Regions from separate parts of the Homo sapiens genome. Here region 2 is linked to region 1. Evidence: fine-mapped expression QTL. A gene starts in region 1. The other region holds a variant in brackets. All regions are shown on one strand. Distances are from middle to middle. Region 1 holds the start of IGSF1 (immunoglobulin superfamily member 1). Region 2 has its middle 110 kb from the start of IGSF1.

What was found.
Region 2: its variant is fine-mapped to the expression of IGSF1 in thyroid (GTEx, PIP above 0.99).

The regions. Positions count from the first base shown.
Region 1 is chrX:131,288,052-131,290,969 of GRCh38, forward strand. IGSF1 (immunoglobulin superfamily member 1) reads right to left here and starts at 1,255. Exons shown (of 20, transcript NM_001555.5): 1 at 1,163-1,255. RefSeq lists an enhancer at 2,734-2,918.
Region 2 is chrX:131,177,709-131,180,626 of GRCh38, forward strand. No RefSeq gene overlaps it. Among named protein-coding and RNA genes, the nearest start is that of IGSF1, 110 kb to the right of the region's middle. The variant A/G (reference allele first, on the strand shown) is at 1,586.

The DNA.
Region 1 (2,918 bases):
TTCGTGTTCAAAATATCTGGACTGTAGGGAACAAGTGGACAGTGAGAAATCCAAGGAAGCATAGGTCCATTGTACATTTTTCACTTTGTATCAAAGGATTTTCAGATTACCCACTCTGAATTTTCCTTATCTGTAAAGTGGAGGAGTAATATCGACCTAACATTATTGTTGTGTTGGGTTAGAGATAATACATGTACAGTGCCAGGCACATAGTGAACATTACATTTTAAAAAGATGCTTATTTTTTCTTCTTTTCAAAGGGGGCATCCAACTGGTGTAGGGCCCTAAAGATGCCCTTTCCATCTCAGTTCCTACAGTCCCTTGCTCCCACTCCTCTCAGGGCCAGGCCAAAGCTTGGATGCTACCCTGTTGCTTTGTTACCCTGGGGCTTTGGGCCAGGAGTTTTTGGGGGAAGCCAGGTTCCACTGCCAAGGGAGAGGTTCAACCTGGGATTACACCCAGGAAATGCCATCTGAGGTTTCAGCCTTGCCACTTGGACCCCTAAACCAGGATCTTTGCCTACTGGGGGATTGAGGGGAGTCAGGGAAGCTGGGCTTTTTGGCATGGCTGACCCCTCCTCAATCACTAAGGAAATTGTACCATTTATATTCAGCCCAGATGATGAATCTTATACCGGGGGAACATGAGAACAGCCCCAAGCCTTGGGTTAGTTGGCCACGCCCATTTTGGCCTTTCACCCCACCCCCACCCCCAACTTTGGCTGCCTAGCCGTTTTACCCTTCCCTCCTACTCCACCCCAAGCACTTTCCCCACCCTTAGGCAGCGCCGCAGTGCTTTTGAGGGTGACATATCTGAAATGTCTAATGGCTCGCCCCCTGCATAGCTTTGAGGGCTCCAGGAATCAAAGGGGTTGGGCTCGGCGGGGTGCCGGGTACATGCTCAGCTGAGGGTTTGGAGGGAAGACTGAGAAGGAAAAGGGGAGATATCTACAGTGCCCAGAGATTCTCACCGAGGCAGGTCTGGGATCCGGGAAGGAAAGGAGAAAGGCAGGAATGAAGCGGGTGGGGGGACAGACTGGGGAGCAGTTTGATTTACGGCAATTAATTACAGCAAGGAGACTCTTTCGGGGTTTTGTTTAGGATCCGGTGGCCAGTATTTAATATTCAGCCACTGAACTATGCGCTCATTTGTAGGTACTTACGGTAGTTGAAGGCCCGCTCCGATGTTGGAGATTCTCCAGTGAGCTCCTCCAGATGCAGCAAACTGCCCGGCATGAGAAGAGCTGTCTAAGGACAGCCTCTTCGGCTCTGAGCCCCGCCTTCCTCTCTCCCCCGCCCGCCTGCCGGCCCGCCCCAACCTCCTCCCCTCCCTGCGCCGGGCTCGGGGAGCCCACCTACACCAACTCTGCCTGGCACCTGCAGTCCTCTGACGACGGGGATTTCTACGCCCCTCCCAGCTCCCCGCCTCTCTCCGGACTCCCTGCAGAGGTTGCTGGAGCCAAATTCAGGCCCCTGCCCCCTCGCCTGTCTCTCAGAGTTTCACTGGGTCACTGTATTGTGGGGGGGAGAAGGCCAGCTCTCAAGAAGATTTGTAGATCCTTCTCTCCAGCTCCCCAATACCTTTATCGGGATCTCAGATCTTCCCCTGCCCATTTTAACGCCCCATTTATGCATAAACATCACCACAGTTTAAGTGCCTACTGTGTGCCCCTGGGCCCTGGGATCCATTATTTCTCATCTTCAGAGCAACTCTGCAAAATAAGTGTTACTCCCCTCAGTTTTACAGATGAGGAAACGGAAACTCAGAGAGGGTTAAGTAACTTGGACAGCCTTCAAAGTCCATCTTGGGGTAAAAGCCCAGGCTTTAGAGACATACAAATGTATATTTTAGTCCACATTTTACATTCAATAGTTGTGTGACCTCAAGCAAGTGAGTAAACTCTCTGAGTCCCAGGTTCCCCAACAGTAAAGTAAAAAACAAACAAACAAACAAAAAACAGCAGAACCTATTTCACAAGGCCTCAATGGGATGATGTAAGTAAAACTAACAGCACAATAGGCCTAGCATGTAGTAGGTGCTCAATAAATGGTAGTGGTTGCTGCTGCTACCACTACTACTACTACTATTAATCTGTAAGCCCTTCCCCAAATGTCTTAGAGTAACATGATTTTAATAATATAGAGCAACCTTTCACAAATGTTGATTATGAAAGACTTTTTATAATGATAATGTATGAATAAGACACTAATCAAAGCTCCTGATATATAACATATGATGAGATTAAAGTATAGCATCCAATGGGCTCACAGACTAATTGATAAGAAATATCAACATGATAGACTAATTGGCTAAAAAATAGACAAATTTTTCTTTATGTACATTTCCTTTTTTTTAAGACAGTCTCACTCTGTCGCCCAGGCTGGCGTGCAGTGGTGCGATCTTGGCTCACTGCAACCTCCACCTCCCAGGTTCAAGCAATTCTCCTGCTTCAGCCTCCCGAGTAGCTAGGATTATAGGCGCGCACCACCACACCCAGCTAGTTTTTGTATTTTTTAGTAGAGACGGGGTCCCACCATGTTGGCCAAGCTGGTCTGGAGGCTCAGCCTCCTAAACTGCTGGGATTACAGGCGTGAGCTACCATGCCCAGCCTTTTATGTACATTTTCTACCTGCATAAAAGATTTCAAATTATCTAATGAAAAACACTTTAATTCAAGAACAAACTGTGTAAAAATAAAGTAACAGCTCTTTTACAGCCAAATTGATTATCATATCTTCATGCATCAGGTGATATCAATTGTGGCTTCCATTATAAACTATAGATTATTGTGTAATGAATAGAATAGGCATATGAATAAAAAGATGTGTTTCTGGGCAAGTTATTTAGCCTCCAAGCCTCAGTTTTCTTATTTGTAAAATGGGGATAATAATTGCACTTACTACAATGAAGGGTTTGGG
Region 2 (2,918 bases), 110 kb before region 1:
GTCACTCAATTTCATAACATGGTGTCCACTGATGAGTGAGGGCTGGAGGAGAGACATACTTAGTAAGGAGGAGATTCAAATTTCTGAATCTACTCTGCCACACACTAGATGTGAGACCTTGGGACAGTCATGTCATCTCTCTGAGCCTAGGTTTCCTCATTGGTAAATGGAGACAATATTAATACCTCATGGGTTGTTTTGGGGATTAAATGAGATAATGCATGGAAAAAATCTTGAGAGAAGTAAGTGCATACAAAATTTTGGTTGAGTGAAACTATGAATAAAACAATAGTTTGAGCACCTCCCAGGGGAACCAGGAAATTCCAGATGGGGAGGTGCAAGTCAGACAAGGCATATCTGGGACATAAGTGGGAAGTGGGAGTAGAAAGGACCTTTCTGGAAGTTCCTGGTGTTTCCCTAGAGACTCTAGAAGTTTAAGAGGTGGCCTTCAGGAAGGGCTACTGGGAAGTCACCTGCTTGTCTGGGCTTCGGGCAGACCTGCCCTTGAGATGTCTGTGCCAATTCCTCCAGGAGGGGAGCTGTCTCTGGGGACTAGGTGGGGCTCAGAAAAGGGATAAGAGGCCAGAAACTGAGGGCTTGTGGGCTGAGCAGATCTGAAGTGGGTTAGTCATTGACTGGGCTGGGGCAGATGGAGATACAGAAAAAGGGAAAGGATAAAAGGAGTATAACATCACAGCAATAATGTAAGAAACAGTGCATGTGTATGTGATGGGGTGAAGAGGTTGAGTGACAGAGACTGGAAATAGAATGAGAAAGCAATCAGCACTACAGCAGTGCCTGTCAGAGCCTAGCAGAGGGCCTGACACTCAATTGGTAGGCAGTATTTGTTGAATGAATGTATGAATGGAGCAGGGGGCAGGCTGGGAGGAGAGAGAGAGAGAGAGAGAGAGAGAGAGAGAGAGAGAGAGAATGATATGAGTGGTGGAAGACTGGATCTGTAACTCGACAAACATTATTGATCCCCTATCGCCTGCCAGGTACTGAGAAAATAACAGGCTGAAGCACAGCACTGAGTCACAAATAGCTTCAGGCCATAACAGGCTGGCGACTGTGTAGAAAGCAATATGGAAAGCAGTCACTGTTCTCAGTTGTCTGAAGTGTCTGAGTGTCCACCAGAAAATCCTTACCCTGCCTGCTTCTGTGGTGATTTAGTGTCCCTGTACCTACTGTATGTCAAACTCCAGGAAAATCAGCAAGCCTGTTTTAATATCAGTTATCAGTACATTAAACTGGGAAGAAAACTCATTTGGAATGCCAAGAACTGTCACCTGATTTATGTCTTTTGATTCTTACCAGAATTCTGAAAGGTAGGCATCATGAATCATTCCCATTTTCGATATGACAAACCTGAGGCTTATAAGTAGAATGGCTTGCTCAAGATCATAGCAGAACCAGGATTCAAACCTAGTTCTCCTATTCATTGGTCTGTTTTCTGTTCTCTCATCCCTGGCTGCATTCATGAATCCTGTACACATCCAGCCCCAGCACTGCCTCCCAAAGACTGGATAAATGGAAACACACATATCTGAAGTCAGCATATGTTGAACAGAAGCATATGCTGCAC[A/G]GGAAGAATCTTGGCTTTAGTATAGATTTTACATCAGGGACTCTAATATAAAAAGGATCCCAGTGCAATTCATTCATACATTCATTACTCATTCACTCATTTAATCACATATATTCATATATACTTTGAACATAGGCTGGTCTCATGCTATGTGTCCCAAGTAGTTGTAAGTATAAACAGAAGTCAGAAATGGTGAGTTACATAGAGAAGTTCTCTCTATTAAGTGATGGGAAAATTAAAGAGAACAATGATAATAGCTAACGTTTATTGCATGCTTACACTGTTCCAACTACTTCCCGTGGTTTAACTTCTTATATCTTCAAAAATAACTGTATAAGGTATAGGTACCATTATTTTCTCCATTTTATGGTTGGAGAATGGAGACCCAGAGAAATTATACAGCTTGCCTAAGGTGACACAGCCAGTTAAGTGGCAGAGCCAGGATTTGAATCCAGGAAGTCTGGCTCCAGAGTTCCCAAAATGACAATTCCTGGCTGGGATAAGTGCTATGTTTTCTATCCTCTCTTCTCAATCATCCTGACATTCCTTCTCTGCTCAAAGGAGATCTCTCTCCCTTTTTGTATCATTCTCTTTGCCAGTCCATGCTTCTGTTTCTTCTGTTACCCTCACCTAGAGTGACCCTCCACTGCTTTATCCTCCTATCCAAGTCTCTGAATTCTTATGCTGAAAATATCACTTCCAATGTTGTCAACTTCTTCCTGAAGCTTCACATGAACCCACCTTATCAATGTGAAGTGAATTCTTTCTCTTTCTCTGTAGAGTAAGTATGTAGCACTTACTATATTCTGCTGATATTTTTGTTTTTATATTATTACTTGTATACTTATATTTCCTTCCTCTCCCCACTGCCAACTAGATTGCATCTTCCTTAAGAGCTAGGACCATGTCTTGAGTCCTGAAAGTGTTTGGCGTGGTGCTGAGGGGTTGTAGGTGTCTGTTTGTACAGAAGTGAATTATCTGATGCTTGGTTTCCCAGATATACATGAGCTTCATGCAATATGTCTTGGTGTATGAGTCAAAATCACCTGCTTCCTAAAGGGACTTTTCACATCTTTGATGCAAGTTGTAGAGGTGGTGTGGAGCATAGGTTTGATGATGCCATAGAAGACAACAATGAATTTGTTTATACCTTGGAAAACCTGTGAATGAGATTTTAATAGGCTGCAAAAGGACCTGGGGAAGAACAGCAGATAACACAAATGCAGTGACCTCAGTTGAAATCCCATGGTGTCAGTATCCTTAGAATAGCCCATAATACTTCCAGAGGGAGAAGGGATGTTTGGCTGGGGACTTTCTAGTGCTTTTGTCATTT